Linked DNA regions of Homo sapiens: regions 1 and 3 are each reported to be linked to region 2. Evidence: microRNA targets listed by miRTarBase, many of them from high-throughput screens and not tested one by one. Region 2 holds a microRNA gene; each other region holds the end of a gene's coding sequence.
What was found. Region 2 holds the annotated microRNA hsa-miR-548as-3p (UAAAACCCACAAUUAUGUUUGU, at 1,978-1,999, shown strand). A microRNA usually pairs through its seed, bases 2 to 8, with sites in the 3' UTR of a target mRNA and lowers its output. Matches are read on the target gene's strand: a 7mer-m8 pairs with bases 2 to 8, a 7mer-A1 pairs with bases 2 to 7 and ends in A, and an 8mer does both.

Region 1: the mRNA of GPR157 is a reported target of hsa-miR-548as-3p. Seed matches in the 3' UTR shown: 7mer-A1 at 1,542-1,548 and 7mer-m8 at 634-640.
Region 3: miRTarBase lists TCEAL4 as a target of hsa-miR-548as-3p. The part of its 3' UTR that is shown has no 7-base or 8-base seed match.

Annotation. Positions count from the first base shown.
Region 1 is chr1:9,101,599-9,104,598 of GRCh38, forward strand. It overlaps GPR157 (G protein-coupled receptor 157), which reads right to left. Exons shown (of 4, transcript NM_024980.5): 4 at 1-3,000. The coding sequence ends at 2,821. Among named protein-coding and RNA genes, the nearest start is that of GPR157, 26 kb to the right of the region's middle. RefSeq lists an enhancer at 2,501-3,000.
Region 2 is chr13:92,488,222-92,491,578 of GRCh38, forward strand. MIR548AS (microRNA 548as) reads left to right here and starts at 1,942; the gene lies at 1,942-1,999. The region is part of intron 7 of GPC5 (glypican 5); the gene reads left to right. The region is part of intron 1 of GPC5-IT1 (GPC5 intronic transcript 1); the gene reads left to right.
Region 3 is chrX:103,586,882-103,590,238 of GRCh38, reverse strand. It overlaps TCEAL4 (transcription elongation factor A like 4), which reads right to left. Exons shown (of 3, transcript NM_001006935.3): 3 at 2,510-3,357. The coding sequence ends at 2,916. Among named protein-coding and RNA genes, the nearest start is that of TCEAL4, 3.0 kb to the right of the region's middle.

The sequences.
Region 1 (3,000 bases), not on the chromosome of region 2:
TAGAGATACCTGATGTATAACTTTTTGGAGGTTTTTACAAAAGCAGATACAGTGGCCAGTGGCATCAAAGAAATGGAATGAGAACTTGAGCCCAGGCACCCGGAGCAGGTATTTTCTGAGCCCTCAGCTCCCTCTACAGGCCTTTCCTGACCACAGCCAGTCCATCTGGGGAGCCATGTCTCAGCTCTGGCTTGGGTACAGCAGGGAGGGCTCCAGAGGCCCCTGCTGAGCAGGGTTGATCCTAACACTATTCCTCTGTGGCCTATATTGTCTTTTCTCTTTTACCTGTTAATCATGTTCTCTTTTGCAGCAAGCAAATTCCTGAATTTTCGCTCCCTTCTAGAAGCTCAAGTGAGGGTCTTTACCAGAGACATACCCAGAGATTTGCTGTAACGTCTTCAGGGGAATCCAGAATTCACTTACAGAGGCTATTTCTGCCAAGTGGCTTTCCCTGGAGCAGCCCAGAGCTCTCTTTCAATCCTAAGGGGATGTCTGTCTCACTAATTTCCATCAAGAAATCTGTTTTCTTGGACAGGCACAGTGGCTCATGCCTGCAATCGAAGCATTTTGGGAGGCTGAGGTGGGTGGATCACCTGAGGTCAGGAGTTCGAGACCAGCCTGGCCAACATGGTGAAAACCCGTCTCTACTGAAAATACAAAAAATTAGCCGAGCATGGTGGCGCATGCCTGTAATCCCAGCAGCTTGGGATTGGGAAGCAGGAGAATCGCTTGAACCTGGGAGGCGGTGGTTGCAGTGAGTCAAAATTGCACCACTGCACTCCAGCCTGGGCAATAGAGTGAGACTCCATCTCAAAAAAAAAAAAAAAAAAAAAGAAAGCGACAAAAAGAAATCCATTTTCACAGGAAACCAAAAATGAGCATTTTGGACTCAGTCTGCTAAATGATTATTCCTTTCCTGATACAGATTTTGGTTTTGAGAGTCAAACAGGGATCGGCAGCACAGCGTGACTTCGGTTTTGATTCAGAACCATTTTACTAGGCTCAGAAAATCATGCTTTGTCGAGTTCTGATGGATTCCAAGGGAAATCACCTATCAGGTAAAGCTGTACTTTCTCTCACCAAGACCCTGGAGGTAGCATTTCCACTTCCATTCTTTGCCGATGGCTCCTGTGACTGAACACAGAAGCTGTTTTCTGAAATAAGACGAAAGCGTTTGTGGAAGACCCACAGAATAAAAATAGAGATACAGGTGCTTACTTTCAATTCTTTTCTTTTAAATGTAAATAATCGCTCCATGCTCCATGCCGCCACTTACCTCAGCTGAATACAAAACAGCTGAATCCTTTTGAATCCTTTGTTTTTTTCTTTTTTTGAGACAGGGTCCTGCTGTTGCCCAGGCTGGAGTGGCAGTGGTGCCATCCCAGTTCAATGAAGCCTCAAATCCCTGGGCTCAAGGGATCCTCCCGTCTCAGCCTCCTGAGTAGTAGGGACTACAGGCACGCACCACCACATCAGCTCCGGGCGACAGAATGAGGCTCCTTTTTTAAAAAAAAAAAAAAAAAAAAACTGACTCTGAAGCTTAAAACCTTCACCTTTAGGAAGAAATCGTATTTGTTTGTTTGAGACCGAGTTTCACTCTTGTTGCCCAGGCTGGAGTGCAATGGTGTGGTCTTGGCTCACCGCAACCTCCGCCTCCCAGGTTCAAGAGATTCTCCTGCCTCAGCCTCCCAAAGACCTGGGATTACAGACGTGCATCACCATGCCTGGCTAATTTTTGTATTTTTAGTAGAGACAGGGTTTCACCATGTTGGCCAGGCTGGTCTTGAACTCCTGACCTCAGGTGATCTGCCTGCCTTGGCCTCCCAAAGTGCTAGGGTTACAGGTGTGAGCCACTGTGCCCGGCCTGAGGAATCGTATTTGGATTACTCATCTCTCCGGCCACTTTACTTACAAAAAACTAAACTAAGAAGTAAATAAGCCAGAACCCCTCCCTACTCATCCCCTTTGGTCTCCCCAAGAAGAGGAGGATTCTAAGAAAGGAGCTGGAGAGACAGTGGGGTCTTCGGGGGTTCCCTGAGACGCCTCTTCCTGCCCTTGTTCCAGCTTTGGAATTGGAAGGAGGGAACCTGTGTCTGAAGTGATTGACAGGTGGGGACAGGAGTGTGGATTCTGGCCTGTGCTTGACACTCAAACCCAAGCTACGGCAAGGGTTAGCAGCCCATGGAGGGAGAGGCCAGGAGGCCCGGGGAGACTGCTGTCCCTGAGCAGCTGCGCCGGGCTGTGCTTGCCCCTGGTGGTCACCATGCAACCTCAGGGGAACCTTCAACCTGGTGAATGGCAACTGGTTCCTCTGTTGAGCAAAGTCTCCAAGGAAAGCCGGGTTCTCCAGAGAATCTTAACACCCTGACCAGCCGGGAATCTGCTCCATGATGTGTGGATGGGGACACATCTCTGAGGGCCCCTGACAGCTTATTTAATCACACAGAGGATAGGTGCACAGATGTGGGTCCCTCAGATTGTAAACAGTGCTGTGTGGTCCTCAGGACATCAAGGTCCACTGGGTGGGGGCACTGTGGCCACAGCTGTGGGCCACCGGCTTCCCGAATCTCACTGCTACCCTTATGCAGATGAACGCCCACCCGTGGGCCAGGACGCTGGTACCGGTGGAACTTGCTGCCTGAGGATCTAGGAGGTAGAAGAAGCTGAGTTGGCAGCTGCTCTCCCAATGGAGCCGAGAGCATCAATAGCGGGGGCTTCTGGTGCAGCAGACATGCACTTCTGCCCCTGCAGCAGGGACTCACAGAAGTGCCTACCCCCAGGAAGGCAGCACCTATGCACAGAACTAGAAAGGACAAAAGCTCAGGTGCTTGGAAGTTCCCCTGGGGTCCCTTGGGATTCCTGAGATTCTCCTGGCTTGGAAGGCGCGGGAGCCTTGGGAGTGCCAGCCGGGCTCTTGGTGGGAGGCTGAGAAGAGCAGCAGCAGCAACAGAGAGAGAAGAGCCGAGTTCGGACGGCGCGGGTGCAGAGGACGAACATGAT
Region 2 (3,357 bases):
TAATTATTTAAGGATTGCAAACTTACTAAACAGTCCAAAATCTTTCAAACCAATTTAAATCAAAGCATAATATTATCGAAAGATTTAAATTTATGCATCACTTTTCCGTGATGGAATGCTAAGTAGATCCTATCCAATGCTTACTTCAGATCCACTTCATTTCCAAAATGCCACTGAAGCATAAGTTAATTAAATTACATAGATTCTAGGCAGTGATGGGAAAAGTAATATTTGATTAAGTGCATATGCCTGCAAAAATCCCTCCGTTGCCATACGTGCTGATACATCAGCTGCTTAACTGCTGGCATTTTTAATCTATCCAAAAGGAAGACATATTTAAGTAGGTTAGTTATTCCTTGGCTTGTGAAGTGCTATCATTTTTGTTGTTTGCTAATAGTCCTGTAAGGCAGAATTCATTCAAAGCCAGACAGGAAATGCAATGACATAAAACCTGGTATTTAGAGTGCATATGCTCAGAATTCACAGCGATACTGTGTCGTAGGTGGTGGTTTCTTGCAGGCATTGCATTTCTCTTGATTCATGATAATGTTTGAAGCTTTGAAAGTGAAATTGACTAAAATTAATTCTACTTGTGAAACTGCCCTCCGGAAAACTGTTCATGTCTATGTGTATCAATGTGCTAACATAGCAATAGCATTTAAAGGCTTGACAATAAAGGCAGTTACTAACAAATAAAACATTAGAAAGGGCTTTTTTAACAAGTAAATTTCAGGGGAATGGTTTCAAGTTTAGACAGAATTATATACAAGTTCCCAGATGTTCATATAAATATTAATATATCAGTTATTTTCTATTTGACTCAATTATGCACAAATCAGCACATAATAATTTAATCAAGCTCTTCATCTCTCTTTGACAATACATTGCATCATGGAGTAGAGAAAGAATGTGAAATTCAAGGTGGCTAGTCTACTGCTAAACTCTGATGAAATGACACAGAATAATGATTTAACCACCAAACTAAGAAAAATCCTTCATTTTCATGTACATTTTACCTATGTCCATTCACTTATCTAATGATCCTATACATATTTATCAAGTATTAGTATGTGCAGGGCTATGTCTTCGTTGCTAGAGATACATCTTGTGACTCACCAATTCTCTGTCCTCATGGAGTTTCTATTCTAACGGGGAAACAGAATACTGGCAGAAAACAAACCAGTAAATACATCATGTGTCAGATATTGATGAGACACGTGGAGAAGAATTAGGCAAGGTAATTTGCATAAAAATTGTGAGATGAGATGGAGTGCTGATGTTGTTATTTTAGTTGAGGGATATGGACAGGGTTACTCGAAAGGTGGTATTGGAGTAGATAACTGAAGGAAGTGAGAGATACCCACGTGGATACCTGAGGCAGGGCTGCTCTCAGAAACTCACCTAGAGTTTGCCATTAAGCTTGCCATTACTACTTTCAGAAGAACTCAGAATATTAATTTACTTTCTCCACATTCCCTACAGTATGGATGAAGAAATATCACCACGTTCTTTTGTTTGTCTAGACACACAAAATATCTACAGTAGTTGGAGGTACAGACAGAGCTGGGACTAAGGCTTGATTCACCTATTCATAAGCCAGGAAGGAACTCTTGGTTGAATGTAAAAAACAAAAAATATGGTCATATTGCAAACAGAAAAAAAAAAAGTCAGCTTCTAAAAGGATAAAATATAGGGCAAGTTTCTTGGCAGGATTTTAAATGATTCTGTGGAACTTCATTATGACATATTTGTCCCTAAACATTATATGTAAGTTTTTATTTTTAACATGTGCTTCTTCCTCTTAGAATGTCTGTTTACATACTCTTCTTGTGCATTTTAAAAAATTTATCTATAATGTGCAGTTAAACTTTTCAGCGCATTGTTTCCCGAAAACTCCAAGCTGAATTGTTCTCGGTTCTTTGTGAATTATTAGGTCAGTGCAAAAGTAATTGCGGGTTTTGCCGTTGCTTTTAATGGTAAAACCCACAATTATGTTTGTACCAGCCTGATCCTAAGCAATCTCATTATCGTCTAGATTCTGCCACTTTTCATTGTATTATTATATCTATTTTTTCACTAACAGAAATAATTTTTAGTGTCCCTAATGTTTAGTGTTGTGCATATTTTAAAATCTTAATGTTTTCCAAATAAATAAATGAACACGAGATTAACTTACAGGTAGAAAAATGTATAAAACCTCATCAAAAATGATGGCTCTCTAATCAGTATCCTTGCTATACATTGTAAAGGGACATTAAGTATCCACCCAGCCTTTAGAGGTGGAAGACTGGCTCTACCACTTAATGGTTGTATAATAGTAAACACTTTGGTAAGCCTCAGTATCCTGAGTTCTAAAATAAACATATAAATGGTGTTTGTCCCAGTGGTCTGTTTAGGGTCACAGTGACTAACGTATATAAAAGATATAAAAGTGTTTTGTAAATTTTAAAGTGTTTTTCACCTCTTCATTTTTATGACTAATTCTAATATTATCTTATATTTGAAAAGCATAGGGACATAGGAAGGAATTAACCGTGTAACAGATAATGAACTAAAAATTTTCTTAAAAATAATTGACTGAAAAGATATATTGGGTTGAACCTATACTAGTATAAATAGTAGTTCAATAAATCCAAGCTAATTATTGGAGGCAAGAAAACTACAGTGGAAATCTTTGTACTTATCATGAAAGAAGCCTTGTAAAATTTATACAGGAATAACTGTCAACTCCATCACATGCAGGGGGTACAGAATGAGGTAGAACAAAGACAGATACCTATGGAAACTGAGAAGGACTCAGATGGTCTCGTTACTATATGGAACCAAGTTTCTGCTTAGTGACAAATCAGAAATTTATTATGTTTTCTTGTCAGGAGATGTGTACTCAATTGCTGATTATTTCAGAATTAAACCTATGCTAATGGTTTACTATCAGATCCATGTTAATTAAAAATTTAAACTTGAAAATGATTCTGAGATGTCCTTGATATGTGAAGTGCTATTTTAATTTGTTTTGAAACATTCTCCATAATTACAAGCTATACAGAAAAAAAGATCTGATTTTTTTAGTCTTCAAGTCCACAAAAATAGGGACTAATAAAGAAAAGGAAGAACCAGAATTACTTTATATAATTCAGTCAACTTTTTGACACACTTGTAAAACTATTATATTTTAGAAATGTGCAATTAATAGGCATTTTCATGTTTTATACACATATTAAGATGGGTAGTTTTTGTTTTGATGCTATAGAAACATATTTGATCAATATTTTCTCATGGTAAAGCAAAGATTTTCTCAACACACATCGGCAGCACGTTCTTCACATTCATTTGGTCAGGAGATTTTTGTGAATAAAT
Region 3 (3,357 bases), not on the chromosome of region 2:
TATACTAGTAATGAACAATTAGAACTTGAAATGTAAAAGTACCATTTACAATAGCAGTCCCCAAATGCAGAATGTGAGAAAAGAATTTTAATGTATCACAAATGTATGAAACAATCTCACTGAAAGGGATGGGGGAATAAGGTACTGACATAGGTAAATTTGGAAATGAGTGGAGTCTGTAAGACCAAAGGCAAAAGGAACTGTACATAGCACTCTACTCCAGTTGATAAAGTTGTTTTCCACAGGGGCACAGGTTTACAATTTTGAAGCCACTATATATTTATATAATTAATAAACAATTAGTAAAATGGATGGCAGATAGTAGGAGACAGGTTTCTCACAGTTGGAGTAGAAGGTTACAAATAAGCAAGGGGAGGCTAGAATGATCCATGCAGTAATAGACTGTAGTTGGAGACACTAGTATAAATTTATGTTTAGCCTTATATAAATACAGATGGTTATATACAGAAATATTTATATTTCCATAAATACTTTATATATGTATGGGTATTATATACACATATATCTTTTTGCTATGTCAACTGAGAGGGCCTAGAAGCAATTATATTTCAGCAGCAATCAGTATGTCTAGCACCCAGATCTTGTTTTTCTAACACCATTCTCCAACATAAGATACCAGGGCTACTTGGAGAAATGGCTAATTCTAGGACTTGGGCAATATGAAAGATAAAGCTATAGCATCTTGTAGTGCCAGAATGTAAGTAAATACTAAAAAAAAAAAAAAACCCTCTACAACATAACAATGGAAGCGTGTCAAATGAATACAGGAGCCAACTGAAAGCTCCCAATGACCAAAGCTGGAACAATTTGAGCAAAAACATGTAAAGTAGTATTGCGTTAATCCAAAGTATAAAATAGTCATGAGTCTACATTGATACAAATAAACTGAATATATAAATAAGTGGGGAATAAGAGTCAAATATCCTCTGCAGAAGGATTCCAAATAATTTTTGTCAATACTCTGCCTTCAAGGAGGTAATAATGCCCTACTCCTTAAGTGTGGGCTGCCAATAGTGACTTTATTCCAAAGAATACAGTATGGAAAGGGAAAAATAAAACTTAACCTTGGAGAAACCTGACAAACACTACTTCAGTCAGGTTACCAAGGATAAGAACAGTGGTAAATATATTGATGGTATGTCCCCTTTATATGATGAGAATGGCATTTTACCTCTGGTCTTCTTCCCAAAACACATAATGCCTGTGTAATCACAAGACAAGCAAACCCAAGTTTTGGGACATTATACAAAATACCTGACCAATACTTCGTAGAAGTGTCAAGGTCATCAAAAACAGGCAAAGTCTGAAAAACTCTCACAGCTAAGTGGAGCCTATGGAGACATGACGACTAAATGTAACCTGAATGGGATCCTGGAACAGAAAAAGGACATTAAGGGAAATCCAAATAAAGTACGTACTTTAGTTAATAATAATGTATCAATATTGGTTAACAGTGACAAATGTACCATACTAATGTAAGATGTTAATAATAGGGGACAGTGCATATGGGATACTCTGTACTATCTTTGCAATAATTGTGTAGATCTAAAACCATCCTAAAAGTTTATTAAAAAAAAATACTGTAAGGAAATAAAAAGCTACTCAAGAGCCAGGGGGAAAAAATCACATAGGTAGATGGGTCTGTTGAAATAGTAAAGCAGGGCTTAACAGAAATTTCCTGGGAGACAATTCCTAAGAAAAAAGTGTTAGCAGACTAGAGATTAACAAATGAGAATAGCACACCATCTCGTCACTCAGCTTTTCCTCCTGGCTCAATCTCCACTATCTAAATCCGGTGGAAACGGCTATATGCAAAAATATACACAAATCAACAAAAAACATGGAAAGCAGTGTTTTGTAAAAACTTCATAAAACATCAAGGCCCAAGTGACAATTGGGTACTAACAACCTGAGTTAGGATAATTCTATTGTAGGTAGAGAGGGAATTCTCCACTTTTCTGTTGGGACAGTGTTGCTTAGTCCATCATGGTCTTCAGCCCACCAGCAGCAGCTGGGGCCTTAGGAGGGTGCAGGATCCATGAGAAGGGGCACACTACCTTTCAAGTATGGCATTACCCAGGAAGAGTGGCACCCATCTCTCAGCTGTCTGGACTTATTTCTGGGCACAGGTGAGACCCTCCTTCAGCCCTTCCCAAGTATCTGACTGGGCACTGGTTCTGCTAGTGCAAGGGGAGAGAGTAGGAGCCAGCCTAACACAGCTCACACACTCAATACCTCATTTGATCTTCTCCACATGTCTAGGCTAATTTTATCCCCATTTCACAGATGTCAAGGCTGTCCCTTACAGCAATGGCTCTGTAATAACCATCGAGTTGACTCCTCCAGCTTCCAGTCCCAGAGGTAATGCAACTTTTACCTATCATTTTATGTCCTCACAAGAATTTTAAGTATATCCACTGTCTTTATAAGTTCACTGGGCAGTTCATTTGAATGCTTATTCAAATGAATGAAATTCAAATATTCACTGTTTTCCAATACTTTATATTTTATTATTTTTATGACTAAAGAAATCTGTTTTTAGGAGAAAAATGGACAGATGAACAAAAAAGAACAGAAAAAATCACCCAGAGATAACCACTGTTAATCTTTTAGTGGACACAGCTTTCAGAATTGTTTTCTATACTATATTACTAGGTAAGTATCTTTGTAGTTTTACAAAAATGTACTGATGCCATATATTTGGTTCTGCAAGTTGTGTTTTTTAATTTTACAATGCACCATCAACATTTTTTCCATGTAACAGATGAACATTTCCTACTGAGAACACTGCATTGCAGATAGGTCAAAAGGCTGCTAGCAACAGGAGGGATGCCTAAAGTAAAGTATTACCGTAACGTTAAAGCACATGGCCTGGTAAATGCCTGCCAGGGACACTACACATAAGGAATGTCTTCAATGTCCCTTCGTGGGGCCCTGCAGCCACCCCTGAATTCCCTTGGACCTCTAGGGTAGAAGGGGTCCTGTAAATTTCTTTGCATCCACAAAAACGCCCCCAATTTCTGTTTGCTTTTTCTCTTCTCATCCTGCACCTTAGCCATATTGTCAAATTCTCTTATCATGTCCTCATTGCTGAAATTCATATCATGTATGGCCTCTTTATACTCCTTGAGGTAATGAGCCAGCCCCTTATTAGTTTTTCTTTTGGCTTTCCTGGGTACATCATCCTCAGCTGGGCGCTTTCCTGCAGCCCTTGTTTCACTCCCTGGCTCTCCTTCACTCTCTGGCTTTCCCTCTATCTCTGGTTTTCCCTCTCTCTCTGATCCTCCCTCCATCTCTGACTCTCCCTCCCTCTCTGACTTTCCTTCTTTTGCCTCT